7 separate regions of the Homo sapiens genome follow, and regions 2, 3, 4, 5, 6 and 7 are each reported to be linked to region 1. Evidence: microRNA targets listed by miRTarBase, many of them from high-throughput screens and not tested one by one. Region 1 holds a microRNA gene; each other region holds the end of a gene's coding sequence.
The links. Region 1 holds the annotated microRNA hsa-miR-509-5p (UACUGCAGACAGUGGCAAUCA, at 2,462-2,482, shown strand). A microRNA usually pairs through its seed, bases 2 to 8, with sites in the 3' UTR of a target mRNA and lowers its output. Matches are read on the target gene's strand: a 7mer-m8 pairs with bases 2 to 8, a 7mer-A1 pairs with bases 2 to 7 and ends in A, and an 8mer does both.

Region 2: the mRNA of DRAXIN is a reported target of hsa-miR-509-5p. The part of its 3' UTR that is shown has no 7-base or 8-base seed match.
Region 3: the mRNA of SMOC2 is a reported target of hsa-miR-509-5p. Seed matches in the 3' UTR shown: 7mer-m8 at 775-781.
Region 4: miRTarBase lists CRP as a target of hsa-miR-509-5p. The part of its 3' UTR that is shown has no 7-base or 8-base seed match.
Region 5: the mRNA of ZNF221 is a reported target of hsa-miR-509-5p. Seed matches in the 3' UTR shown: 7mer-m8 at 796-802.
Region 6: the mRNA of ZNF483 is a reported target of hsa-miR-509-5p. Seed matches in the 3' UTR shown: 7mer-m8 at 644-650, 7mer-A1 at 1,109-1,115 and 7mer-m8 at 2,252-2,258.
Region 7: miRTarBase lists THEM6 as a target of hsa-miR-509-5p. Seed matches in the 3' UTR shown: 7mer-m8 at 2,764-2,770.

What each region holds. Positions count from the first base shown.
Region 1 is chrX:147,259,002-147,263,067 of GRCh38, reverse strand. MIR509-1 (microRNA 509-1) reads left to right here and starts at 2,443; the gene lies at 2,443-2,536. It overlaps MIR509-3 (microRNA 509-3), which reads left to right and starts at 3,342; the gene lies at 3,342-3,416. All of the region lies in intron 2 of LOC105373347 (periphilin-1), which reads right to left.
Region 2 is chr1:11,719,099-11,723,164 of GRCh38, reverse strand. DRAXIN (dorsal inhibitory axon guidance protein) reads right to left here. Exons shown (of 7, transcript NM_198545.4): 7 at 1-3,581. The coding sequence ends at 3,469. Among named protein-coding and RNA genes, the nearest start is that of AGTRAP, 15 kb to the left of the region's middle. RefSeq lists an enhancer at 3,352-3,421.
Region 3 is chr6:168,666,011-168,670,076 of GRCh38, forward strand. It overlaps SMOC2 (SPARC related modular calcium binding 2), which reads left to right. Exons shown (of 13, transcript NM_001166412.2): 13 at 411-1,982. The coding sequence ends at 428. Among named protein-coding and RNA genes, the nearest start is that of SMOC2, 230 kb to the left of the region's middle. RefSeq lists enhancers at 891-1,392, 1,393-1,892.
Region 4 is chr1:159,709,805-159,713,870 of GRCh38, reverse strand. It overlaps CRP (C-reactive protein), which reads left to right. Exons shown (of 2, transcript NM_000567.3): 2 at 1-1,582. The coding sequence ends at 346. Among named protein-coding and RNA genes, the nearest start is that of CRP, 2.8 kb to the left of the region's middle.
Region 5 is chr19:43,966,735-43,970,800 of GRCh38, forward strand. It overlaps ZNF221 (zinc finger protein 221), which reads left to right. Exons shown (of 5, transcript NM_001297588.2): 5 at 1-975. The coding sequence ends at 622. Among named protein-coding and RNA genes, the nearest start is that of ZNF155, 15 kb to the right of the region's middle.
Region 6 is chr9:111,542,844-111,546,909 of GRCh38, forward strand. ZNF483 (zinc finger protein 483) reads left to right here. Exons shown (of 6, transcript NM_133464.5): 6 at 1-4,066. The coding sequence ends at 327. Among named protein-coding and RNA genes, the nearest start is that of ZNF483, 20 kb to the left of the region's middle. RefSeq lists enhancers at 2,186-2,355, 2,419-2,588.
Region 7 is chr8:142,734,758-142,738,823 of GRCh38, reverse strand. THEM6 (thioesterase superfamily member 6) reads right to left here. Exons shown (of 2, transcript NM_016647.3): 2 at 1,897-3,498. The coding sequence ends at 3,385. Among named protein-coding and RNA genes, the nearest start is that of SLURP1, 5.6 kb to the left of the region's middle. RefSeq lists an enhancer at 1-435.

The DNA of each region.
Region 1 (4,066 bases):
GAACAGCACAGGGAAGACCCGCCCCCATGATTCAATCTTCCACCGGGTCCCTCCCACAACACATGGGAATCAGGGGAGCTACAAGATGAGATCTGGGTGGGGACACAGAGCCAAACCATATCATTCCACTCAGGCCCCTCCAAAATCTCATGTTCTCATATTTCAAAACACAATCATTCCTTCCCAACAGTCCCCCAAAGTCTTAACTCATTTCAGCATTAACTAAAAAGTCCACAATCCAAGGTCTTGTCTGAGACAAGGCAAGTCCCTTCAACCTAAGAGCCTGTAAAATCAAAAGCAGGTTAGTTACTTCCTAGATATAGTTGGGGGTACAGGCATTGGGAAGATACAGCCAATCCAAATGGAAGAAATTGGCCAAAACAAACGGGCTACAGGTCCCATGCAAGTCCAAAATCTGGTGGGGCAGTCAAATCTTAAAGCTCCAAAGTGATCTCCTTTGACTCCATTTCTCACATCCAGGTCATGCTGATGCAAAAGGTAGGTTCCCAAGGTCTTGGGCAACTCTTCCCCTGTGGCTTTGCAGGGTACAGCCTCCTTCTTGGCTGTCTTCATGGGCCAGTGTTGAGTGTCTGTGGCTTTTGTAGGCACACAGTGCAAGCTGTCAGTGGATCTACCATTCTGGGGTCTGGCGTATGGTGGCCTTCTCACAGCTCTACTAGGCAGTGCCTCAGTAGGGACTCTGTGTTGGGGCTGTGATCTCAGCTTTTCCTTCTGCACTGTCCTAGCAGAGGTTCTCCGTGAGATCCTTGCCTCTCCAGCAAACTTCTGCCTGGAGATCCAGGCATTTCTATTCATCCTCTGAAATCTAGGTGGAGGTTCCGAAACCTCAGTTCTTGACTTCTGTGAACCCACAGGCTCAACAGCTTATGGAAGCTGCCAAGGCTTGGGGCTTGTACCCTCCAAAGCCACAGCCTGAGCTATACCTTGACCCCTTTTAGCCACAGTTGGAGTGGATGGGACACAGGGCACCAAGTCCCTAGACTACACACGGCACAGGAACCCTGGGCCTGGCCCTCAAAGCAACATTATCCCCCTAGGCCTCCAGGCCTGTGATGGGAGGGGCTGCCACGAAGACCTCTAACATGCCATGGAGATACTTTCCCCATTGTCTTGGGGACTAACATTTGGCTCTTCATTACTTATGCAAATTTCTACAGCTGGCTTGGATTTTCCTCAGAAAGTGGGTTTTTCTTTTCTATAGCATTGTCAGGCTGCACATTTTCCAATCTTTTATGCTCTGCCTCCCTTATAAAATGGAATGCCTTTAACTGCATGCAAGTTACCTCTTGAATGCTTTGCTGCTTAGAAATTTCTTCTGCCAGGTACCCTAAATCATCTCTCTCAAGTTCAAAGTTCCACAGATCTCTAGGGCAGGGGCAAGATGCTGCCAGTCTCTTTGCTAAAACATAAAGAGTCACCTTTGCTGCAGTTTCTAACAAGTTCCTCATCTCCATCTGAGACTACCTTAACCTGGATTTCATTGTCCATATCATTATCAGCATTTTGGGCAAAGCCATTCAACAAGTCAAGTCTCTAGGGAGTTCCAAACTTTCCTACATTTTCCTGTCTTCTTCTGAGCTCTCCAAAGTGTTTCATCCCGTGCCTGTTACCCAGTTCGAAAGTCGCTTCCATATTTTCAGGTATCTTTTCAGCAGTGTCCCACTCTACTGGTACCAATTTACTGTATTAGCCCATTTTCACATTGCTGATAAAGACGTACCCAAGACTGGGCAATTTACAAAGGAAAGAGGTTTAATGGAGAATTCATAGTTCCATGTGGCTGGGGAAGCCTCACAATCATGTTAGAAGGCAAGGAGGAGCATGTCACATCTTACATGGATGGCGACAGGCAAAGATAGAGAGCTTGTGCAGGAAAACTCCCATATTTAAAACCATCAGATCTCATGAGACTTAGTCACTATTATGAGAACAGCAGAGGAAAGACCTGCCCCCATGATTCAATCATCTTCCACTGGGTCCCTCCCACAGCATATGGGAATCATGGGAGCTACAAGATGAAATTTAGGTGGGGACACAGAGCCAAACCTTATCATATGAGATTGATGAGATGGAGGATTATTTACTACTTAATTAATGGATATGGAGAATGCAAACTGGTAGTTAATGCTTTGCAAGTAGCAATGTGAAAAGGAACAGGATAAGACATGCAAGGATATTTCTTCTGTGAGTAACAGAACCTAACAGAAATGTTTAATATTTCTCAGTTCTGAAAACTGTCACGTGAAAGCTGCAACATGGGAGTGGACAGCACTCAAAGCAGGAAACATAAGGAAAGATAGTGGATTGGATTCTGCAGAAGTCCTTTGTCCAAATTCCAATGGCCACCCACAACTTGTAAATATTGAATGGCTGTTTTAAAGGTGAATGGGTGGGTATTAAGGCAAGGCTGCCATCCTCAGACATGCTGTGTGTGGTACCCTACTGCAGACAGTGGCAATCATGTATAATTAAAAATGATTGGTACGTCTGTGGGTAGAGTACTGCATGACACATGCAACATACATGATGACACTGTGTGTGTGTTGGAGGCATTTAGTTGCATGCAGAGGGATGCTTTCCTTACAGTGCAGGTATTTTACCCTCACAAACCCTCCACTTCCATGCTGGACTACCTCAGAAAACTCTCTCAGGTGCCTGACCACCAGACACGTGATCTAGGAATTTAAGGTCCTTGCAACAAGCCTCCCATTGAGTTCTTCTGAGATTGACTTCCATTTCTATGATGTTGCCTGATTGAACCAAGGTTTATCTTGCCATTTTACAGTTTCTTTCTGCCTTAAGAGTATTATTCATTTTGCAGAAACTATTTCCTTCTCCAACATCCAAATCTATTAACGGTTAGCTTCCTTTCTAATTTTCAAGTCTTCTTAAGCCTTCCAAAATTCCCTCCTGCTTCTTAAACACTTAACTTTCTGAAAATCAAAATATTTTCTGTCTCAGATATACAAAGTCCTCTTTCTTCATGTGCTAATAAAGTACATATTCGTTCTTTTGTAAATATATTTTAATCTATTATAAGGAACAGGATAAGACATGCAAGGATATTTCTTCTGTGAGTAACAGGACCTAGCAGAAATGTTTAATATTTCTCAGTTCTGAAAACTGTCATGTGAAAGCTGCAACATGGGAGTGGACAGCACTCAAAGCAGGAAACATAAGGAAAGATAGTGGATTGGATTCTACAGAAGTCCTTTGTCCAAATTCCAATGGTCACTCACAGGTTGTAAATATTGAATGGTTGTTTCAAAGGTGAATGGGTGGGTATTAAGGCAAGGCTGCCATCCTCAGACATGCTGTGTGTGGTACCCTACTGCAGACGTGGCAATCATGTATAATTAAAAATGATTGGTACGTCTGTGGGTAGAGTACTGCATGACACGTGCAACATACATGATGACACTGTGTGTGTGTTGGAGGCATTTAGTTGCATGCAGAGGGATGCTTTCCCTATAGTGCAGGTATTTTACCCTCACAAACCCTCCACTTCCATGCTGGACTACCTCAAAAAACTCTCTTAGGTGCCTAATCAGACACATGGTCTAGGAATTTAAGGTCCTTGCAACAAGCCTCCCATTGAGTTTTTCTGAGATTGATTTCCATTTCTATGATGCTGCCTGATTGAATCAAGGTTTATTGTGCCATTATACAGTTTCTTTACGCCTTAAGAGTATTATTCATTTTGCAGAAACTGTTTCCTGCTCCAACATCCAAATCTATTAATGGTTAGCTTCCTTTCTCATTTTCAAGTCTTCTTAAGCCTTCCAAAATTCTCTCCTGCTTCTTAAACACTTAACTTTTCTGAAAATCAAAATATTTTCTATCTCAGATATACAAAGTCCTCTTTCTTCATGTGCTAATAAAGTACATATTCGTTCTTTTGTAAATACATTTTAATCTATTATAAGGAACAGGATAAGACATGCAAGGATATTTCTTCTGTGAGTAACAGAACCTAACAGAAATGTTTAATATTTCTCAGTTCTGAAAACTGTCATGTGAAAGATGCAACGTGGGAGTGGACAGG
Region 2 (4,066 bases), not on the chromosome of region 1:
TTAAATGGTTTTAGAAAATTAAACTAATAATATTTTATGGCCAGGTGCGGTGGCTCACACCTGTAATCCCAGCATTTTGGGAGGCTGAGGCGGGCGGATCACCTGAGGTCAGAAGTTTGAGACCAGCCTGGCCAACATGGTAAAACCTTATCTCTACTAAAAATACAAAAATTAACCAGGTGTGGTGGCACATGCCTGTAGTCACAGCTACTTGGGAGGCTGAGGCAGGAGAATTGCTTGAACCTGGGATGAAGAGGTTGCAGTGAGCTGAGACTGAGCCACTGCATTCCAGCCTGGGCAGCAGAGCAAAACTCCATCTCCAAAAAAAAAAAAAAGGAAAGAGAGAATAATATTTTGTGACATGTGAAAAGTATACAGAATTCACATGTGTGTCCAGAAATAGTTTTCCTGGAGCATAGCCATGAATTCATTTACACACTCTCTGTGGCTGCTTCGAGCTACGGCAGAGCTGAGTAGCTGGTGGAGATCAGATGGCTTGCAAATCCTAAAATGTTTATTTGGCTCCTCACAGTAAAAGTTTGCTAAACCCTGGATTAGAGGAAACTGGCTTCTGTATGAGCAAAATAAATTTAAGATAGACCTAAGGAAGAACTTCCTGGCAGAGAGGTTGGTTAGACACTTGAGAGGGCTTTGGGATTCCCAGCTCTGGAGTTAAGAGGTTCCATCCACCCATCCCTCTTTGGAAATGTCAAATAGAGATAGCTAGGGCAAAGAGACGGGCCTTGAATTTCCAACCATGGAACTACCCTGGCAACCAGTGGCAGTTCTATGGGCATTTTAGCTTTGTCCTGACCCTCTGTGTTCTCCATGGCTGATGTCCTAGGACCATCTAACAGCTGTCCCCCAGCCATAGTAATGCTGGGCTTTCTTCCGGCGGTACTCCTTAGGGTTCTAGCCCCACAGAGCCAGCACAGTCCCGAGTCACCACTTAATGTGAGGCACACACAGCATGTGTGGGTTGTCTGGTCTCAAGTACGAAGCTGCTGGCAGATCTGCCTTTTTACATTTTTAAGTGTTTTATATTTTTGGAGTCTCACTCTGTCGCCCAGGCTGGAGTGCAATGGCGTGATCTTGGCTCACCGCAACCTCCGCCTCCTGGGTTCAAGTGATTCTCCCGCCTGAGCCTCCTGAGTAGCTGGGATTACAGGCACCTGCCACCATGCCTGGCTAATTTTTGTATTTTTAGTAGAGATGGGGTTTCACCATGTTGGTCAGGCTGTTCTCGAACGCCTTACTTCAAGTGATCTGCCTACCTCGGCCTCCCAGAGTGCTGGGATGTCAGACATGAGCCCTCGTGCCCAGCCTTAATTTTTGTATATTTGGTAGAGACCGGGTTTTGCCATGTTGGCCAGGCTGGTCTCAAACTCCTGACCTGAGGTGGTCCGCCCACCTCAGCCTCCCAAAGTGCTGGGATTACAGGCATGAGCCATTGTGTCTAGCCATATCTGCCTTTCAGCTAGCCTGCTTTGATCTCCCAGTTCCCCTGCCCTCCCTGCTCCCTCCCCACAAGGTTCCCATGCCCATCAAACTTGGATAGGGAGAGAACAAGCATATTTAATTTCTTCTAGATCTGCCTGCTTTCCTTGGTGCCTGACCCCTGACCCCGACTGATTTTTCCAACGCAGTAAACATCTCTGGCATCTTATGGGCGTGATCCAGGCCAGTGAGGAATTTGGCCAGGAAAGTCTTTTGTCATTTGCAACCTGGTTCGCCCTGGAACAGAGGGTTGGCCAGGAGTGAGATGCCAAGTGGGGGGATTTAAATGGTTCTCCTGAAGTGACCCCTGAAGCCAGATCTGCTGGGACAGATGTCCTGGGTGGGCATTGTGAGTCTGGCCTGTTAGGGGCAGTTAGCTTCAGATAGCACCTCAATTTCAGGTGAGCCTCAACTTCCCAGTGGGCTCTGCTGCAAAAATGTGGGGTGGGGTTCCAGGGATGGTTTTGTGGTCCTGGAAATCACTAAACAGTATGCAAAGTGGGTAAACATGGGCAATATGTGTGGGGTTTTTTTGGATTCCATGCTTGCATCAGAACCCCTGGGGGGGAAGTGCTCCAGAAAACTGTAAAGTGCCTGTCCAGGACTGGATGATCAGGACCACAGGGACATAAAGGCCAACATGATTCTTTTCCCCAAACACTTCTTATCCCAGGATATCAGCTACTAGACCACAGGGATCAACCTGCCCAACTTATTCCTGCAAGCAAGTATGTGCTTAAGTTGTATTTTGTTTTGTTTTTAAACATGATACACCTTTATCCAGGGAAGGCAGAGAACAGTCAAGTTATTCCAGCCACAGAGGAAGGGAATACCAGGGTGTGAGCCTCTCTTGCCAAAAGCCTTAGAGAATCTGGAAGAAATTCTTGGCTGTGGAGCAGCAAGAACGTGGGCCTTGGAGCTGGACAGCCTTGGCCCAGGTTCATGTCCTTGCTCTGCCATGTACTTCCCAGGACCTCTCAGTGGGTCCCTGGGCCAGCAGCCTCGCGTTCCCTGGGAGCTTGTTAGAGCACAGAGCCCACTGAGTCAGATGTGCTTTTTTTTTTTTTTTTTTTTGAGATGGAGTTTCACTCTTGTCCCCCAGGCTGGAGTGCAGTGGCACGATCTCTGCTCACTGCAACCTCTGCCTCCCAAGTTCAAGCGATTCTGGTGCCTCAGCCTCCGAGTAGCTGGGATTACAGGTGTGCACCACCGCGCCTGGCCTAATTTTTGTATTTTTAATAGAGACGGGGTTTCCCCATGTTGGCCAGGCTGGTCTCGAACTCCTGACCTCAGGTGAGCCACCCGCCTTGGCCTCCCAAAGTGCTGGGATTACAAGCGTGAGCCGCCGCGCCCGGCCAGATGTACATTTTTAACTGGACCTCCAGGTGACTCTTAGCATGTTCAGGTTTGAGGAGCACTGACCTGGGACCCTGGGCAAGTCGAGTCAAATAACTCCAGCGTGCCTCACGGTCCTCAACCTGTCGCATGGTGATAATGCCTACTTGAAAAGGTCGTTGTGATAATTCAATGAGATAATGTATTCCAGCACTTAGCACAGTGCCTGGTACATAGGAGATGTTCCATATTCATCTCCTGATGGTGGACCTTCTTTCGGGAAGTTTAAATTTCTTTTCCACTCTCAAAAACGCCTCTTGGTTTTGAACTTGAAGCTGTTGCAGTGCTGGAGTCGGACAGTAGAGGGCACTCTCGGCATTGCCATCGCGGAGAGCAAGACACGCGGGATGGAGGCTGCGTGGGTCCGGACTTCGTGTGTGCAGGTGCTGCGGGCCGGCTCCTGGGCACCCACCCAGCTCATTCGCCGAGCGGCTCCCCTCCTGGGGTTGAGTGTCCTGGGCCTGAGTCTGCAGCCTCAGCCATCTGTTCCCCAACTTGATCTCCCACTGCTAGTTACAAACAAATCGCCCGGCTTGTGCAAACCTCCTGGGCTCAGTCCCCAGTCCCGCGGGGCCGCTAGACGTTGATGAAGGATCCCTGGTCGCCGTTGGCCGTCTCGGGCTCCACACAGCGCCCTTTCCTCCGTGTAACCCTGCGGTTCCGGTGGAATTTGGCATAGCAGCGCAGCCCTGGGCGAGTGGAGGCAAGGGGGGTCAGAGGCGCGAAGGGCCCGTGCCCTCCCCTTCCTTCCCCTGCACGCTCGGGGCCAGCCAGCTCCCTCCTGCCTTCATTATTCTGCCCTACAACCCAGCTTCCTCACGGCAGCCCCAATGAGCTTAAAAGACACGAACCCGGAAGAGGGGAGGAATGAACACGGAAGGAGAACAGAGAAGACTCAGGGCGGTCGGGGCGGTGAACATATTCTGTGTGACACGTAATGGTGGGACATGGCATGCATTTGTCAAAACCCACAGAATGCACCGCACAGTGAACTATAACTTACGTTGACTTCAGTTAGTAATAATAATACATCACTATTGGTTTGTCAAGCAACAAATGTACCAAGAGAGGCCGGGCACGGTGGCTCACGCCTATAATCCCAGCGCTTTGTAAGGCCGAGGCAGGTGGATCACTTGAGGTCAGGAGTTTGAGACCAGCCTGGCCAACATGGTGA
Region 3 (4,066 bases), not on the chromosome of region 1:
AAGAGGTAAACTAGTGAACAAAAAAGATAAAAAGGAAAATTAAGAATCAACTATGCCTTTATCAAATTTGAAGCATAAGTTATATTATTAAAATTATTTTTGTATAATCAAGGTGATAAGACATTCTGGAAAACATTTAATGTATTTAGTACTTAGAATATTTACAGTGGATGTTACTTTTTTGAAACGATATATTTTTCCCAATTTTTCTATCATGTCAAGGAAGGAAACTGTTAAGAAGTTACCAGTGTCCAAAATGTCTTCATTGTTTCTTACTCATACTTACACCTCACATGACCTGCCCAGCCCTCTTTGGTTCAGTTCATTCCCAGAAGCCAAGCCTTAGTCTTCACAGATGAGCGACACACACCTCTGAATATAATGTCTCTTTTTTGTTTTTTCCTTTTCAGCCAAGGAAACAAGGATAAATGGCTCATACCCCGAAGGCAGTTCCTAGACACATGGGAAATTTCCCTCACCAAAGAGCAATTAAGAAAACAAAAACAGAAACACATAGTATTTGCACTTTGTACTTTAAATGTAAATTCACTTTGTAGAAATGAGCTATTTAAACAGACTGTTTTAATCTGTGAAAATGGAGAGCTGGCTTCAGAAAATTAATCACATACAATGTATGTGTCCTCTTTTGACCTTGGAAATCTGTATGTGGTGGAGAAGTATTTGAATGCATTTAGGCTTAATTTCTTCGCCTTCCACATGTTAACAGTAGAGCTCTATGCACTCCGGCTGCAATCGTATGGCTTTCTCTAACCCCTGCAGTCACTTCCAGATGCCTGTGCTTACAGCATTGTGGAATCATGTTGGAAGCTCCACATGTCCATGGAAGTTTGTGATGTACGGCCGACCCTACAGGCAGTTAACATGCATGGGCTGGTTTGTTTCTTGGGATTTTCTGTTAGTTTGTCTTGTTTTGCTTTCCAGAGATCTTGCTCATACAATGAATCACGCAACCACTAAAGCTATCCAGTTAAGTGCAGGTAGTTCCCCTGGAGGAAATAATATTTTCAAACTGTCGTTGGTGTGATACTTTGGCTCAAAGGATCTTTGCTTTTCCATTTTAAGCTTCTGTTTTGAGTTTTGCCCTGGGGCTTGAATGAGTCCCAGAGAGTCGTTCGGATGGTGGGAGGCTGCCTAGGAGGCAGTAAATCCAGTCACAGTGCCTGGGAGGGGCCCATCCTTCCAAAATGTAAATCCAGTCGCGGTGTGACCGAGCTGGCTAACAGGCTTGTCTGCCTGGTTTTCCTCCTACACGTGGACATTATTCTCCTGATCCTCCTACCTGGTCCACCCCAGGGCTACCGGAAGGTAAAATCTTCACCTGAACCAATTATGAGCAGTCTCCTTACTGAAGGTACAGCCGGATACGTGGTGCCCCCGGGGCTGGTGTTGGCAGCCGGGGGGAGGTGCCTGAGGGTCCCCACGGTTCCTTTCTGCTTTTCTGAATGCATCAAGGGTACGAGAACTTGCCAATGGGAAATTCATCCGAGTGGCACTGGCAGAGAAGGATAGGAGTGGAATGCCCACACAGTGACCAACAGAACTGGTCTGCGTGCATAACCAGCTGCCACCCTCAGGCCTGGGCCCCAGAGCTCAGGGCACCCAGTGTCTTAAGGAACCATTTGGAGGACAGTCTGAGAGCAGGAACTTCAAGCTGTGATTCTATCTCGGCTCAGACTTTTGGTTGGAAAAAGATCTTCATGGCCCCAAATCCCCTGAGACATGCCTTGTAGAATGATTTTGTGATGTTGTGATGCTTGTGGAGCATCGCGTAAGGCTTCTTGCTTATTTAAACTGTGCAAGGTAAAAATCAAGCCTTTGGAGCCACAGAACCAGCTCAAGTACATGCCAATGTTGTTTAAGAAACAGTTATGATCCTAAACTTTTTGGATAATCTTTTATATTTCTGACCTTTGAATTTAATCATTGTTCTTAGATTAAAATAAAATATGCTATTGAAACTATATTAGTCTTTTTTTTTTCCAGCTAATTGCAGACTTTGATCATTGCTTAATTGTACAAGTGTCCACTGTAAGGGAGGGAAAGGTGAGGGCTCTGGGCAGAAAGAATTGGAACCCTGGCTGTGTCCCTGAGTGGTGTGTGACTTTAGACATGACCCCTCAGTTCCTCCTCTGGGATGCGGGGATGCTGGTGGTATGAATGAACCTCCTCCTTCCACACATGGGAAGAGAATTATGTGAGTTGTTAATGTATGTAAAGTGCTTGGAACCTGCACCCCAGGTGTGCCACGTACATGTGTTTGCCCTGACCATGTGGAAGGTCATCTGCCCGTGAGTCTTAAGTCCACACTGCCCAGTGCTGCTGACATCACCCAATGCTATGGGAAACTTCAGAAGAAACAAAAAGAGTGCCTTATTTTGATTAAAGCTGGTGGCCGGGCACGGTGGCTCACGCCTATACTCCCAGCACTTTGGGAGGCTGAGGCAGGTGGATCATTTGAGGTCAGGAGTTTGAGACCAGCCTGGCCAATCTGGTGAAACCCCATCTCTACTGAAAATACAAAAATTAGCTGGACATGGTGGCGGGTGCCTGCAATCCCAGCTACTTGTGAGGCTGAGGCAGGAGAATCACTTGAACCTGAGAGGGGGAGATTGCAGTGACCCGAGATCACACCACTGCACTCCAGCCTGGGCAATAGAACAAGACTCAGTCTCAAAAAAAAAAATAAAAATAAATTTTAAAAAAAGCTGGTGCTTTTCTCCAAGTTATACAACTAGAAGCCTGAGCCCACTCCTCGCATTCCCCTCCCCCACACCCTGCATCCCCCACACACCTAGCATTCCCCTCCCCCACACCTGCTGTCACCCTCCCCCACACCATCATCCCCCTCCCCCACACCCCACATCCCCACCAACCTCGCATTCCCCTCCCCCACACCCTGCGTCCCCCTACTCCTCGCATTCCCCTCCCCCACACCCCGCGTCCCCCTCCCCCACACCTGCTGTCACCCTCCCCCACACCGTCATCCCCCTCCCCGACACCCCACATCCCCAACCTCGCATTCCCCTCCCCCACACCCTGCGTCCCCCCCACTCCTCACATTCCCCTCCCCTACACCCCGCGTCCCCCTCCCCCACACCCTACGTCCCCCTCCCCCACGCCCCACGGCCCCCCCCACACCCCAGGTCCCCCTCCCCAACACCCTGCATCCCCGTCCCCCACACCCCGCGTCCCCCTCCCCCACACCCCACGCCCCCCACAACATCCTGCGTCCCCCTCCCCCGCACTGGCATCCCTGCCTCGCTTAGGCCCTCGTGTTTTCCTTGGACTGTTGTGGTAGCATCTTAACGGGACACACTTCCTCCAGGATTCGTTACTGCCTCCTGGTCCTGGTAAGTTCCCCCAGCCCACCCCAACCCCACACACAATTTTCTTTCTATTCAGAAAAAAAGTGATCTTTGTAAAACTGTCTTAGCATTGGCCATGACGATTGTGCAGTAAAGACAGTGCTGTGAAGGGCATTAGCACAGGGCTGCTGTCAGGGAAAGCTCTAGCGGAGGTGGAGCTTCAACTGGGATTTGAAGTAGGTAGGAGAGAATGAAGTGTCCAAGAAGTCTGAAAGAGCTTGAAAAGATAGGAAGGGAAAGAGAGTGGGGAGGCATGGAGCCGGTGCAGGTGGTTCTTATTGCAAAATATTAAGATTGCAAATCCAAACCAGAAATCTTTCTCTTACCTAGGCCATGTGGCTGCTTCTAGTGAAAGATGCCTCCTTCCCCAAACCATCCCCCACTCTCCTCCTTATGTCTGAAAAGGCTTGCCTGCATTTTTGTCAAAAATATCTTGGTTGGACATTTATTTTAGAAGCATACTGACCAACTCATAAATCATGCCCATCATTGCCACACCAGAAATATTTTAAATGATCCAGGTGAATGTTTTCAGCTTTTTTTTTTTTGGAATCAATGTACAGAAATAACTGACATGATCATAAGCTGCCAATTGGACAATTGAGTCAAGCAAACAACAAAGCTACTCAAGAAAGACAATATGGGCTGGGTGTGGTGGCTCATGCCTGTAATCCCAGCAC
Region 4 (4,066 bases), not on the chromosome of region 1:
TCCAGTACACATTTGTACAAGCTGGGAGTCCGCCTCAGGGATCGTGGAGTTCTGGGTAGATGGGAAGCCCAGGGTGAGGAAGAGTCTGAAGAAGGGATACACTGTGGGGGCAGAAGCAAGCATCATCTTGGGGCAGGAGCAGGATTCCTTCGGTGGGAACTTTGAAGGAAGCCAGTCCCTGGTGGGAGACATTGGAAATGTGAACATGTGGGACTTTGTGCTGTCACCAGATGAGATTAACACCATCTATCTTGGCGGGCCCTTCAGTCCTAATGTCCTGAACTGGCGGGCACTGAAGTATGAAGTGCAAGGCGAAGTGTTCACCAAACCCCAGCTGTGGCCCTGAGGCCCAGCTGTGGGTCCTGAAGGTACCTCCCGGTTTTTTACACCGCATGGGCCCCACGTCTCTGTCTCTGGTACCTCCCGCTTTTTTACACTGCATGGTTCCCACGTCTCTGTCTCTGGGCCTTTGTTCCCCTATATGCATTGCAGGCCTGCTCCACCCTCCTCAGCGCCTGAGAATGGAGGTAAAGTGTCTGGTCTGGGAGCTCGTTAACTATGCTGGGAAACGGTCCAAAAGAATCAGAATTTGAGGTGTTTTGTTTTCATTTTTATTTCAAGTTGGACAGATCTTGGAGATAATTTCTTACCTCACATAGATGAGAAAACTAACACCCAGAAAGGAGAAATGATGTTATAAAAAACTCATAAGGCAAGAGCTGAGAAGGAAGCGCTGATCTTCTATTTAATTCCCCACCCATGACCCCCAGAAAGCAGGAGGGCATTGCCCACATTCACAGGGCTCTTCAGTCTCAGAATCAGGACACTGGCCAGGTGTCTGGTTTGGGTCCAGAGTGCTCATCATCATGTCATAGAACTGCTGGGCCCAGGTCTCCTGAAATGGGAAGCCCAGCAATACCACGCAGTCCCTCCACTTTCTCAAAGCACACTGGAAAGGCCATTAGAATTGCCCCAGCAGAGCAGATCTGCTTTTTTTCCAGAGCAAAATGAAGCACTAGGTATAAATATGTTGTTACTGCCAAGAACTTAAATGACTGGTTTTTGTTTGCTTGCAGTGCTTTCTTAATTTTATGGCTCTTCTGGGAAACTCCTCCCCTTTTCCACACGAACCTTGTGGGGCTGTGAATTCTTTCTTCATCCCCGCATTCCCAATATACCCAGGCCACAAGAGTGGACGTGAACCACAGGGTGTCCTGTCAGAGGAGCCCATCTCCCATCTCCCCAGCTCCCTATCTGGAGGATAGTTGGATAGTTACGTGTTCCTAGCAGGACCAACTACAGTCTTCCCAAGGATTGAGTTATGGACTTTGGGAGTGAGACATCTTCTTGCTGCTGGATTTCCAAGCTGAGAGGACGTGAACCTGGGACCACCAGTAGCCATCTTGTTTGCCACATGGAGAGAGACTGTGAGGACAGAAGCCAAACTGGAAGTGGAGGAGCCAAGGGATTGACAAACAACAGAGCCTTGACCACGTGGAGTCTCTGAATCAGCCTTGTCTGGAACCAGATCTACACCTGGACTGCCCAGGTCTATAAGCCAATAAAGCCCCTGTTTACTTGAGTGAGTCCAAGCTGTTTTCTGATAGTTGCTTTAGAAGTTGTGACTAACTTCTCTAATGACCTTTGAAATCAAGTCCCTGTAAGTTTACACTTCCCATTACACAACATATCCATGGCACTTTAACCTGTCCAAGAGTCCCCTGAAGGGATTCCCTCTGACAAGCACAGTCCCTCTTTTGAGATAGCTGGCCATTCATGTAGGGCCAGTTGTGGGGGTTTTAGTACTCTCATTCTATCATTATTCCAATTTGAGGAGCAAAAACTAAAGATCATTGAGATCCATGGATCTGCTGCCAGGTTCAGTGACTGGAATGCACTTGCCCCAGCGGGTTCAAGTTCTTTGTAGAAACAGACCCCTCAAAGATGACAGCAGCTGGCTTCCTCCAGAAGTGTCCTTCAACACTGTCTTTCAGTACTAAGTGACCAGTAGAAGTTACTCCATAAAGACCATAGCCAGGAATGAATTATGGGGCTTCCTGCATATCAAATGGTTACCTAGGGAAGGCATATGGTAAACTAGTTAAGCACAGAGGTTCTGGAATCAGACTGCCTAGGTCCAAATCCTGGCTTTACAACTTACTAGCTATGTGACCTTAGGTGATATAACCTCTTTACGCCTCAGTTTTCTTACCTACAAAGCAGGAGAAATAATAGTAATTAGCTCAAAGGGTTGCTATAAGAATCAAAGAAAATCATGCAAGCAAAGCACTTACTACAGTGCCTGGCACATAGTAAGCTCTTATAACAGTTTTCTGGTATTATTCTTATTAAGCCATTTTGTATTATATCCATAAATGTAGATTCATAAAATACATAAAAATACAACTTGGTAGAATTTGTCTTGGTTGGCAGCAGTTGAAGCTTCTCATTTGCTAAGAATTAGGTTTAGAATGTTAGAAGGGTGAACAACAAGTCTTTGAAGCCATTATTTATGAATATTGACTTCTCTAATTGACTTTTGATAACCATTTGTAAGCATAGAAGCTAAGGATACATTCTCAGACAAAAATGAGAGTGCAAATACTCTCTGTTGTCCAATTAGGGCAGATCCATCCATCCTCACATTCAGCTAAGCAGAAGAGAGGATTGACACTCTTTTCTAGTTAAATAATCCAGATACGTCTTAATTATAGAAGGCCATCCCAACTCCCCAGGGATGTAGGTTGAGCTAATATTTTCTTCAGAATTCAGTTGCTTGCATCTTACTATACGTAGTCTGGTAGACAGCCTCTGGCCTTAATAATTTGAGCCAGGAAAATCTTAACAGCTGGTATTTGCATTCAGAGAACATTAAAAAATCTTAACAAAGCATTCGTAGGATGTTTAGATTTAAGCAATTTAGCCTACTGGTGGGTACATCAATGTAAACTTGTTGGAAAATGTATTTCCAGGTAACTGGTGAATTGTCATACCATATAGAGCTATTAGATGTAATCCAATTAAATGTTAGATGACATCTGCCAAAGAAGATGATTCTGATTTGGGCATGTTGGTTCTAAGCAATGCTTTTTTTTTTTTGCAGTAAGTGGAGAGTAAGATCAAACATCCACCGTGGCCACTTCTAGCTGATGCTAATAAAACCATGTTGTCAGGACTGGTTTTCTGTTAGAGTAGGGACCATGGATCCAATTTTTCCAGAAGTAGAATCAGGCCTCAAGGAATGAGTTAAAAAGACATAGGGACAAATGGTCTATAAAACCTATAATAGAAAGGAGGTGAAAGCGGGGTGGTGGCCCAGTGCCTGAAGAGATACTGTAGTGCATTTACAGGCCAAATAAGAGAAAGTAGAACAATAGTATGAATCAGAGATGATGGAGGCTGCTACTTGATAGAACACTTTCTTTTTGGAACTGAAAATAGCCATGTTGGTATAAGGGTTAGGGCCAGGCCTGACCCTAATGTAAGCGCCTTAGCATGGGATGTGATATGGAGATGTGCAGATCAGAAACCTAAAATCTCCCTGTGTCAGAAAAAAATGTTAGCTCACTGGCCAGGCAACAAGACTTGCACACTTTCCAAAAAGAGGTGGTCATGGAGAGAGCATTGTTAAGAATGGGCTGCATGTCAGGCCAGGTGAGTGGATGAGAAGCCACCTCTGTGATGAGACTTGGTCTATCCAGGCCCTGGAGGAGAGAGTACAGGCTGCCTCAAAAGTGAGGCTGGGACCTGATGGAAATGGATTTGGAGTCCCAGCTGACAAAGTAAGTAGAATGTTAAATCTGTGATATTCTCCCCCATGCTTTCACTATCCTCAAGTTTGATGTGCCCCAGGCAAGCAAAGATTGACAAAGGAAGCAAATGACTCTAGATGATTGAGCACCACCACCACGTAGATCAAATTTCCAAAGTATAGATTTCTGATCACTAGAATCCCAGGGAAAAGAGAAGCACTGCTTTGATTTCTAGGTAGCTTATCCTAGGACAACTGCCCACTAGTCTCAGATGGGTTGTCGTACTTGCCTGGATTCCTTCTCTTCAGCTCCCT
Region 5 (4,066 bases), not on the chromosome of region 1:
CCATCAGCAAGTCCACAGTGGACAAAAATCCTTCAAATGTGAAGAATGTGGGAAGGGATTTTATACAAATTCACGACGATCTTCCCATCAGAGATCCCACAATGGAGAAAAGCCATATAACTGTGAGGAGTGTGGTAAGGACTATAAAAGGAGGTTGGATCTTGAGTTTCACCAGAGGGTCCACACGGGTGAGAGACCCTATAATTGTAAGGAATGTGGCAAGAGCTTTGGCTGGGCCTCCTGTCTTTTGAAACATCAGAGACTCCACAGTGGGGAAAAACCTTTCAAATGTGAAGAGTGTGGAAAGAGATTTACTCAGAGTTCACAACTTCATTCCCATCAGACATGCCATACTGGAGAAAAGCTATACAAATGTGAGCAGTGTGAGAAGGGGTACAACAGTAAATTTAATCTTGACATGCACCAGAGGGTCCACGGGGGAGAGCGACCCTATAATTGTAAGGAATGTGGAAAGAGCTTTGGCTGGGCTTCATGTCTTTTGAAACATCAGAGACTCCACAGTGGAGAAAAGCCATTGAAATCTGGAGTGTGGGAAGAGATCTACTCAGAATTCACAGCTTCATTTACATCAGTAAGTCTATGTGGGAGAAAAGCCATATAAATGTGAGAAGTGTGGGAAGGGCTTTGGCTGGGCCTCAACTCATCTGACCCATCAATTCTCCACAGCAGAGAAAAACCATTCAAATATGAGAACTGTGGGAAGAGCTTTGTACATAGATCATATCTTTTTTTTTTTTTTTTGAGACAGAGTCTCACTCTTTCACCCAGGCCTGACTGCAGTGGCGCTATCTCAGCTCACTGCAAGCTCCGCCTCCCAGGTTCACGCCATTCTCCTGCCTCAGCCTCCCGAGTAGCTGGGACTACAGGTGCCCGCCACCACACCCAGCTAATTTTTTGTATTTTTAGTAGAGACGGGGTTTCACCGTGTTAGCCAGGATGGTCTCGATCTCCTGACCTCGTGATCCGCCCGCCTTGGCCTCCCAAAGTGCTGGGATTACAGGCGTGAGCCACTGCGCCCGGCCATAGATCACATCTTAAAGACCAAGAAAAGAGTCCACAGTGGAGATAATCCATACAAATGTGAGGAGCATGGGATGTACTACAACAGGCACTTGACTTGATATGCATCAGAGGGTCCATATGGCAGAGAAACCGTGGAAGTTTGGGGAGATTGCCATGTGCTTCAGTTATGCCTCAAAGTCTTCAACTTCATTGGACTGTTCACTTTCAAGGGAAACCTTAGTAAGGTGATATCTGTGATAGTCTTCTCAACTACAAGCTCATCTGAGAGTTCACAATGGGAGAAGCATTAAAAATTTGATACATGTGGTAAGCACTTCAGTTTGAGTTCATATCTCATAGCTTATTACAGAATCCATGCTGATGATACATTTCATACAGTCTCAGGAGGGAAAATATTTAAGTTAAAGTCAGAGTTTCAGCCATAGTTCAGCATACCCACGTGGTTTTAGAACCACTGTAGCACAGAACCTTTGTAATTTGGGGCTTCATTCAGAAGTTTGGCAATTATAGTTATTCAAGAGACAGGCCTTAGAAAGAATAGGAGTTTGTTCAGGCATTTACAAATCTCTAATGATGGACATGTCAAAATTGATGTCGGCTAGAATATAAGCTGCATTTACCTTTGCTGCAGAATCTTCACAACCTTAACACTGATTGGCACTTTGTATGTGTGTTTGGTACATGTAAGAGATGTAGAAAGAGCTTTGGCTGGGCTTCATATCTTTTGAAATATCAGAGATGTGATATTAAAGGATCAAAAGGAGAAAACATATTTCAAAATTGTATCTAAAAGAGGAAACCTGGGATAGACCAAGATGGCCAATTAGAAGCAGCTATGGTTCATGGTACTCATACAGAGGAATGAAAATGACAGATAAATTCAGCACCTTCAATTGAAATATCTAGGTTCTCTCATTGGGACTGACTAGGCAATCAATTCAACCCACAGAAAATGAAGAAAAGTAGGGTGGAGTTATGGCCCACTTGGTGTGGCATGGAGCCAAAGGAAACCTCACCCCCACCCAAGGGAAGCAGTGAGTGATTGTGCGACCCTGCGCAGGAAACCATGCTACTCAAGGATCTTTGCAACCCACGGGTCAGGAGATCTCCTTGTGAGCCCATGCCACCAGGGCCTTGGGTTTGATACACAGAGCTGTGTGGAGTTTTGGCAGAGCGGCCTCTCAGGCACACACAGAGACCCAGGAGGTTTACATGCTCTAGCCCCAGAATTCCTGGCAAGGTGGCAGATTCATCCTTATATTCCCCTAGGAAGGGGGCTGAATCCAGGGAGCCAGGCAGCAACATTCTGTGGGCCCCACTTCCATGGCACCTTACAAAACCCACTGGCTTGGAATTTCAACCAACCAACAGCAACAGGCTTCAGCCTGAAATAGGAGGGAGCTCCTGTGGGGGAAGGCTGGCCACCATTTCTGTGGTTCAGTCTACTCAGCATTCCAGCCTGCCAGCTCTGGAGAGACCAGGTTGTCTGGACAAGGAGAGGATCCCCCTGCCCAACACAGAACACCTGCTTTGCCAGATCATGCCCAGACTGCTGCTTTTTTTTTTTTTTTTTTTTTTTTTTTTTTTTGAGATGGAGTCTCACTCTGTTGCTCAGACTGGAGTGCAGTGGCATGCTCTTGGTTCATGGCAACCTCCACCTCTTGGGTTCAAGCAATTCTCCTGCCTCAGCCTCCCAAGTAGCTGGGATTACAGGCAGGTACCACCACACCTGGCTAATTTTTGTATTTTTCATAGAGACAGGGTTTCACCGTGTTGGCCAGGCTGGTCTTGAACTCCTGACCGCAGGTGATCCGCCTGCCTCAGCCTTCCAAAGTGCTGGGATTACAGGCATGAGCCACTGCACCTGGCCCAGACTGCTTCTTTAAGCAGGACCCTGATCCATTCCTCCCCACTGTGTGGGGTCTCCCTGTGGGGGGTCTTCAGTCACTCCAGCCAGGCTTATACTGACAGAAATCTAATCTCTACCTCAGATGGAGCTCCCAGGGGAGTGGCGACCACTGTCTCTATGGTTCGGTTGACAAAGCTGTTCCAGCCTGCTGGCTTTGGAGAGTCTGGGCAATCTGGGTGAGGAAGGGTCCTCCCCCACCGCAGCACACCTGCTGTACCAAAAGCAGTTGGACTGCTTCTGTAAGTAGGTCCCTGATCCTGTTCCTCCTGACTCAGTGAGACCTCCCAACAGGAGTCTCTAGACACCTCCTACAGGAGTCTTCAGGCCAGAAACTGGTCAGTATCCCCCTGGGACAGAGTTTCCAAAAGAAGGAGAAGGCTGCCATCTTTGCTGTTTTGCAGCTTTCACTGGTGACACCTCCAGGTACGGGAAAAACGGAGGCAACTAGGGTCTCGAGCAGACCCCAGCAAACTGTGGCAGCCCTACAGTTGCTAACAGTCAGTGGCTTGACTGTTAAAAACAGGCAGAAAACAACAAGAACATCAACAAAAAGACCCCACAAAAACCCCATTCAAGGGTCAGCAACCTCAAGATTGAAGGTAGGTAAGCCCACAGATATGATAAAAAGTCAACACAAAAAAATGCTGAAAACTCAAAAAGCCAGAGCGCCTCTTCTCCAAATGACTACAGCACCTCTCTAGCAAGGGTACAGAACTGGGCTGAGGCTGAGATGGCTGAACTGACAGAAGTAGGCCTCAGAAAGTGGGTAATGAACTTTGCTGAGCTAAAGGAGCATGGCATAACCCAATGCAAAGAAGCTAAGAATCATGATAAAACAATACAGGAGCTGATGACCAGAATAGCCAGTTTAGAGAGGAACATAACTGACTTGATGGAGCTGAAAAACACAACACAAGAACTTAACAATGCAATCACAAGTATCAATTGTAGAATAGACCAAGAGGAGGAAAGAGACTCAGAGCTTGAAGACTATCTTTCTGAAATAAGACAGGCAGAGAAGAATAGAGAAAGAATGAAGAGTAATGAACAAAACCTCTGAAAAAAAATATGGAGTTATGTAAAAAGACTGAACCTATGACTGATTGCGGAACC
Region 6 (4,066 bases), not on the chromosome of region 1:
TGTAACCAGTGTGAGAAAGCCTTCCCAACCCATTCACTGCTAAGTCGTCATCAGAGAATTCATACTGGTGTAAAACCTTATAAATGTAAAGAATGTGGGAAGTCCTTCAGTCAGAGTTCATCTCTTAATGAGCACCACCGAATTCATACAGGAGAGAAACCCTATGAGTGTAACTATTGTGGTGCAACCTTTAGTCGAAGCTCAATCCTTGTAGAACACCTAAAAATTCATACCGGAAGGAGAGAATATGAATGTAACGAATGTGAGAAGACATTTAAAAGTAATTCAGGCCTCATTAGACATCGGGGATTTCACTCTGCAGAGTAATCCTGGAACTACATTAAAGTGGGGGGAATTTAATTCAAATTGTCAGTTACTGAAACCCTGGGATGTAAACTTACAGTATTGATCAGTAGCTGCAGCTTTCGTAAATTGGCAGTTAGGAAAAATATCCTTTTGCCCATTCATCCCTCTTCTTTTCAAGGATGGCAACGACTGGTAAACAGTAATTAGTTGGTAAAGTCACTGGAAAGGGAAGAATGCAAAATGATTCTGAGGCCAGACGAATTGGAAAAGCTCTTTTCTTCAGGGGATTTCTCTCTGATTTCTTCTACTACCATGTAGTGTGATGGAGAGAACTTGACTGCAGTCACATAACTTGGATTCTGTCCCAGTTTGCCAACCAACTTGCTGTATACACCTTGGACAAGTCATTTGACCTTTCAGAATTTTATTTTCGTCACCAGCAGAATGAAGGGATGGGATTAATGATTTTTGCCTTTTTTGGTTTTTTAGTTTTTTATTGGTATCCTGATAATCTCTGAAGCTGTGGACATAAGTTATTTTTTTTTATTTGTCATTACTTTCAAGTTTCTCTAGTAAAAAATACAATACCACTATTCAGGATGCTGGACTTCTTTTCTTTTTTTTTTCTTTTTTTTTTTTCAATTTTTCTTTTTTGGGATGGAGTCTCACTATGTTGCCCAGACTGGTCTTGAACTCCTGGGCTCAAGTGATCCTTCCATCTCACTTTCCTGAGTAGCTGACATTACGGGTACACTCCATCAAGCCTGGTTCCTAGGATGCTGGACTTCTAGCTTAGTGAGAATGCAGTATACTTTTTGAAAACTTCGTGCAGGAATCCCTCAAATGCTGTAACTAGGAATGGGTCAGTGAAGTTCAAACGACTTTTCCTTGAGGGAGTATTTTAATCGGACAAGGGAACTCTTTTTCTTTTGGGCATTGGCCAACAGGACTGAGAAGCCAGAGAGCTTGCACCTGAGCCATCTCAGCCGTGAGAGTAACAGTCCTAGGAAAATAGATGGGGGCTGGGGGTAAGGAAATGTGCTGAAGACAGAGCTATTCTGGATGGATTTTGGTTTGCAAAAATTCTACTTTAAAACAATTTTGCCTGTAGCAAGTACATTTTTTTGCAATTGGAGTGTAAACATTCTGTGTGGCAACAGTTAAAAGCTGTTATAACAATTTGCTTGGGTGTGTGTGCATGTGTGTGTGTGTGTGTGTGTGTGTATACATTGTTGCCACTATCTAAAATTAGGGCATTTCATACTAAAAACAAAGCTTGTCTTAAAAAAAATTATAAGGGCTAACAACACTGGGCTTTTATTTATGTAAAGCACTCAGCTGGTCCTGGGTAGCAGCTGCCACCTTTTGATGGGGAATCAACTTTCTGACTTAGCTAGTTCTCTCATGTATGTCACCTGACTTTCCCACTGTATGAATGTTCTATTATAACCCCTACCATTTGGAGAATAGATACCCTAAAATCTAAAGAGACTGCACTGATAGCAAGTAAAGTTCAGGGAATGAATGTAGAATTGATACAGAAAAAATTTTCAGTTAAGTTTTCTTTTGTGAAATTAGACCTCAGAGGAATGGAATATACGGGTATTGGTGGATTATTCCTTATAAATTTCATTGGTGGAGTCTGAATAATAATTTCCAACTGAAAAAGGAACTTAAGGCCCTGAATGAGTGAGGTTTTGGCTTCAGGTCATAGGGTTCTGGAGGAACCCCATGGACTCAACAGTGGTCTAGAAATAAGTTCCTAAAGTTGAAATTGTGGGCACCTCCTATAAAAAGAGAGCTAAACCAGAAAACTCTTCACTTATGGAAGTAAAGCGATCCTTAATGCTAATCTTAGACTCAGGAACATTTACTGTGACTAATGTATGTAGGTGTGAAATGCTACCTCTGGGAGAAGGTTTTTGGTGCCTCCCCAACCCCAAGCCTGCAGTTTAAATATTGCCGTGTGATAAATTGGTCCGCATAGTTATTGCTAAGCAGACCAACGAATCACATCCTAGCCATGAAAGGAATGTTTATTATGAGAATCATTCATAATGGTTTTAAGTTTTTTTCTGAAAAGACAGAAAACTTGTTGTAAGTTTTGTTTTCTGAAAAATATAATTTATAGAAAGTTGAAGAAATAACGTAAAAGTCTTCAGAAGAGGCTTGTTCCAAGATGATTACTCTTAGACTCCCTAACATTCATAACAATGTTTTATCCCAGTATCCATTGGGAATCTGGAGTATAAACTTTTTTTTTAAAGGAATTTATTGAGGTACAAATTACATATCATTAAAACCATTTCAAGTGTACAATTCAGTGAGTTTTAGTAAATATGCTGAGTTGTGCAACCATTACCATAATCCATTTTTTAGAACATCATCCCAGCAAGATCCGTTATTCCAGTTTACAGTTAATCTCCCGTCCAACCTCTAATCCCAGGCACCCACTACTCAGTCGACTTTGTGTCTCTAGAGTTGTCTTTTTCTGTACATTTTATGTTATATGTGATCTTTCTGTGTTTTTTTCATTAATGTGTTTTAAGTTCATCCATGTTGTAACATACTAGTACTTTATTCCTTTTTATCATAAATAATATTACATTATGTGGATGCTTCGTGCATTCACTAGTTGAAGAACATTTGAGGTTTTTCCAGTTTTTGCCTGTTAGGAATAATGCTGCTTTGAACATTGGTATGCAAGTGTTTTGAACGTTAGTGTACAAGTCTTTGTGTGGACATGTTTTCATTTTTCTTAGGCAGATGCCTGAGGGGAGTTGCTAGGTCATACGGTAAATTTTCATTTAACTTTTTTAGGAAACTGCCAAATTGTTTTCCAAAGTGACCGCATTATTTTACATTCTGACTAGTAATGTGTGGGGCTTCCCATTTCTCTACAGTCTTGCCAGTCATTGTTGTCTGTTTTTTAAAAATTATGCCCATCCTAGCGTTTGAAATGATATTCCTTTGTGGTTTTAACTTTGATTTTCCTGATGGCGAATAATGTCAAAGCATCTTTTATGTGCTCTTCAGCCATTCATGTATCTTAGTGAAATGTTTATTCAGATTTTTTGTCCATTTAAAATTGGAGTTTGCTGATACTGTGTTGTAGTCCTTTTTATTCTGGATATAAGTCCTTTATCCAATATGAACTTTCTAAATACCATGTACTAGCTACAGAGAGCAGCCCAAACTCTGTTGGATAATATTTATCAAAGTCTTGATTTCAGTAGTTAAGTCTGTATAATTGCCTGCAGGACATTCAGTCTGGCCCATCACCCAAATATTTAAATTCACTTTTGGATTAAGTCAGATTATCAAAAGGCTTTAAACGTCTTTTGATTCATTATAGGATTGCTTTTATGAAGAGCACTGTGACACATTTTACTTTAAAATGAAGTCCTTGCTTTAAATAATGTTTCCTCTTAATGAGCGTGTATAAATTTTTTTCATGTCACAGGACAAGGCAAGGTTTTGGTCAATAAAGTCATTTTATTTATTTTAGAATTATTTTTTAATGTAGTAAGATACATATAGCTTAAAATGAACCATTTAAACACTTTTTGGTTATACAGCTCAATAGCATTTAGATAGATGCACATTTTGTGCAGTCATCACCACTATCCATCTCCAGAACTTTTTCATCATCCCAAACTGAAACTCTGTACTCCTTAAACAGTAACTCCCCATTTTCTCCTCCTCAGGCTCCTGGTAACCACTGTTCTACTTCCTGTCTGTACAAATTTGACTGTTCTAA
Region 7 (4,066 bases), not on the chromosome of region 1:
TCCCTATCCATGAGGTGGGCGATGGTCCTGCTGTCCCAGAATTCCGGACACCAGGCACAGTAGAACTCCACTCAGCAAGGCCTCAGATGTGGGGATCTGTGTCCCTGGGCCCTGAGGGGACACAACAGTGGCCAGTCAGCTGACTGAGCCCAGAGGCGGTGGCTGGATGCTGAGACTGAGCAGGCAACTGACCTAGGGTGAGCCCCGGGGACACCCACCAAAGCAGTCGTGACTCTGTCCACCTGGCCATCAGAGGGCACAGTGCCTCCTCCCCCAGGACGACGGACCCATGCACAGCCACCACCCCAGGACCTCCGGACACACTCCCATACCCTGTACCTGTCCCTTCTTCACCAGCATCCACCAAGGGCTTCCTGGGCCCGACACCTGGACACTGTGCAGACACCTCCGGGGGTGGGGGCGGCTGGGGCAGAAATTCTGCAGCTGTTGGCCTTGGGGGAAGGACGCGGGCCGAAGCAGTTGCTGCCCTCTAACTTCTCCGAGTGGCAGGCTCACAGGAGCAGAGTGGGCTCCAGTGGCTCCGCCAGGACAAGGCACTGGTTCACTTCCAATCCCAGCCACCCATTCCCTGACCCGGGCCAGTCCTGTCGTCAGCCCGTCCTCCAAAAACAAGACCAAGAGAGGGCCCTGCTGGCTCAAACCTTCCTCTGAGCCAGCCTATGACAGCCCAGGGTGTTCAGCTTCTGCATGGAGAGAGAAGCCCCAGAGGCTTGCGGGTGCTGCCCATTCAACCACCTTGAAGCTTGCCCGTTGCCTGCGTGCACGTGCGCACACACACACACACACACACAAATGCACACAGGCACGCACATCCATATGCGCACTGGATACACTCATTCCTAGTCCAGTCACTGAGCCCTACTCCCTATCCAGGCCAATGTGCCTTCCACGACCCAGAGGTAGCTGCTGAGCCAGGGACCGCAGTGGCATCATCACATGGTGCCCTCCCAAGGCCCAGGCACCCTGTCCTGTGGCCCCCGCCCTGCTCCAGGGCTCAGGCAGATGGTCAGGACCATCAGCTGGACGGCATCCCTACAGCTTCATCTGCAGCCCCACTGGGAAGCTTGTCTGGCAACACTCAGCTCACACACCTGTGGCGACCCCACGAGCCACCTCCCCCAAGGACCCCAGAGAAAGCACAGAGGCTTCTGGCCAACCAGTCTGGCTACAGACCCCAGATTTGCTGAGCAAGTTTGCTTCCCCTCCCCAGCCCTACTGCCCCATCACTAAATGCCGGTTTCATAGCTGTTTCCAACTGCCCACTCCTTCCCTGGCCCTCAGAGCCTTCTGGACCCTCCCAGGAAGGTGGTCACAGCATGGACGTGGCCACACCCCGCCTCACTCAACTTTATGTCCCGGAGGGTCCCACTTCTCCCCACCCCTTTTGAAGGGCCTGCAGAACAGCCCCCATGCTCTCTCTGCCTCCTGTCCACCCACCAGTCCATTGACCTCTGCCCCCAATGGCTACCAGCACCCTGCCCGAGGCTCTGGGAGCCTGGAGGGCCAGACCCAGAGTCTGAGGCATGACCGCCAGGGTAATCCCTGAAGGAGGGAAACCGGGAACCTGGCGCTGGCATCTGTAGATGGGGCTGCAAGCCTCGAGAGCTGGGAACCAGGAGGGCCGGAGCAGGAAGGGCTGGCTCCCCAGGGGGCTTTGGACAGCACCTTCTTGGCCTCAGTCCTATGCCCCATGGGATGAGGACAAGCCCTGCCCTGCCAGCCTGATCCCTAAGTTCACGGGAGCCCAACAAACCTGGATAGCCCCCCATGCCAGACACCCATCTTGGGAATGTGCCCCAGCTTCCCTGGTCCCACCTCCGCCCCTGCATGGATGGTGGTGGTGGTAGCTCAGAAACAAGGCCCTCCCCAGCACGCTTGCAATGAAAACCCTTTAATGTTGGGCTTTCTTTAAATAAAACAGAAAGGTTGCAGCTTTCCCATGGTGGCTGTAAGGCAAGAACAGCAGTGAGGGCGGGCGTGTTCTATCGGGCAGTGCTGCAGCCCTTGACTCTGGCTCAAGGTGGGCTTCCTGGAGGCAGCGGCAAGGAGGCAGTTCTGGATGTGCAGGCACAGATGTAGGGGAACAGGCAAGCGGGCACAGGGCCCTGAGCTGACAAGCAGTGACCCCTGCACCCAGCTAGATGGGGCACCCCCTCTCTGGGAGCTGAGGGCATCAGCTGGAGCCTCAGGCTGGGACCAGCCCCAACTTTGCCTTGGTGACTCTGGGCCATTCCAGGCCTCAGTTTCCCCAGCTGTAAGGTGAGGCATTAGGCAGGAGGGGGTGGCCCCAGCCAGTGTCCTAGTAGCCTGGTGTCTCCATTAGGGAGACCTGAGAAGCTGCCAGGAGAGGCTCTGCTAGCGCAAGGCAGGGCCGGCCCAGCAGCTGACAAGGAACATGCTGAATATAGAGGACAGAGGAGTTAAGAAGACGCCTGCCGGCCAGGCCAGAGAGGGGCAGCTCTAAGGGGGTACAGCGGCCTGTGGTGCTGTAGGCCCAGAAAGGGTGGGGATCAGCCCAAGTCACAGAGCATGGCCCTGGTGGGCGGCGAGGGGTGCGAGTGGACAAGGACACCCCTGCAGAGTCCCACCCCCACTCTATTCCCTCCAACAAGGGAACGCCCAGCAGGAAGCCTGCTGTCTTTCCAGGAGCCCCTGTGCCACCTAGTCTGACCCCTCTCAGCCACAAGGCTACCCTCCCGTCCAGCCTGACTGGAGGTAGAGGAGGAGGAGGAGGCAAGGCCGACTGCAGTGGGGAGCCCGGGTGCCCCGTCCTCTGTCAGCAAATGCCTCCCTTCCATCTGCCTCTAGCCCCGGCCTCTGACCACCCAGGCTCTGCCCCAGGCCTGCAACCACCTCAGCGGAAGCCAGAGGGGCTGCCTGGCAGATGCCGCTCTGACCCTTCAGGAGTGCCCACTGCACCTGAATCAGGCCCAGGCCCTGGAGAGCCCAGGCCTGTACCCAGGATGCTCTGGTCTGGCCCTGCCTCGGCCCTTGCAGTGGTCCGAGCCAGGATCTAGGCTCGGGAGGCACTTGTGGGTCCCTCTGCTCCAGGCACCATCCTCCCCTACCTAGGCCCACATGAGTGGCCTCATCGTAGGGCCAGGCAGGACTCTCCTTTGCCCATCCATCCCCACCTTGAGGGCAGAGCTGGGTCAGGATGCCAATGCCACTCCTCCTTCTGCCTAGCGTGGAGCCCAGCACAGAGGGGTATCAATAACTGGGGGGGCCCAGTGGGTGGAGCAGGGTGGGCCAGGCTGGTCAGGAGGCTACTCCAGCTGGAACAGAGTATGGCTGAGACTGCCCATCTGTGGGCAGCCCCCAGGCCCAGGATGGTGGCCAGGGCAGACGGTGTGAAGGTGGCGGTCACTGGTCCTTGGTGACATCACTGAGCCCACTCTCCATGCGGAGCAGCTGGCTGCTGGCCTCGTTGTAGGAGATCCAGTGCTGCAGATCAGCGGGCAGCTCAGGGGGCTCCACCTGCAGAGGACAGAAAGGGGACACCCAGCTAAGCTACGGCCTTCCCACCTCTGGGCCGCTGCCCACACTGCTCCCCAGCCCGTGACCTTCCAAGATCCCCTGCCCCGCCGCCTGCCATGCTTTGCCCATGCCTCCCCAGGCTCTGCACACTTGTGCTACCCCTGCATACCCACCTTGACACAGCCCCGCTTGTGCCTGGCCCGTCTCCCCTAGGGGCCATCCCCAGAACCCAGCCAGAAACCCGTGAAGTTGGCAGGTTGGGAAGGGCAGAGAGGAAATCCAGAGGCCTCAGGGTGACAGGGGACAGAGGGGTGGAGGGCCAGCATGGGAGCCCTCCTCCAGGAAAGTACCAGACAGGGCTCACTGAGTTCTCTTCTTTCTCCAGGGCACCCAGAGGATGGCACTTCATCCCCCAGGGCAGCCTGGGCCTGACCACTCCACTATCAACCCTCTCCACACACACAGCCACCATGTGGCAATGGGAGCCAGGCTCCAGGCCACTCCTGAGGGGTCCACAGCCTTGCAGATGGGCATTGGGAGCTCCCAGGATGAGGGGACAGGCCAGGCA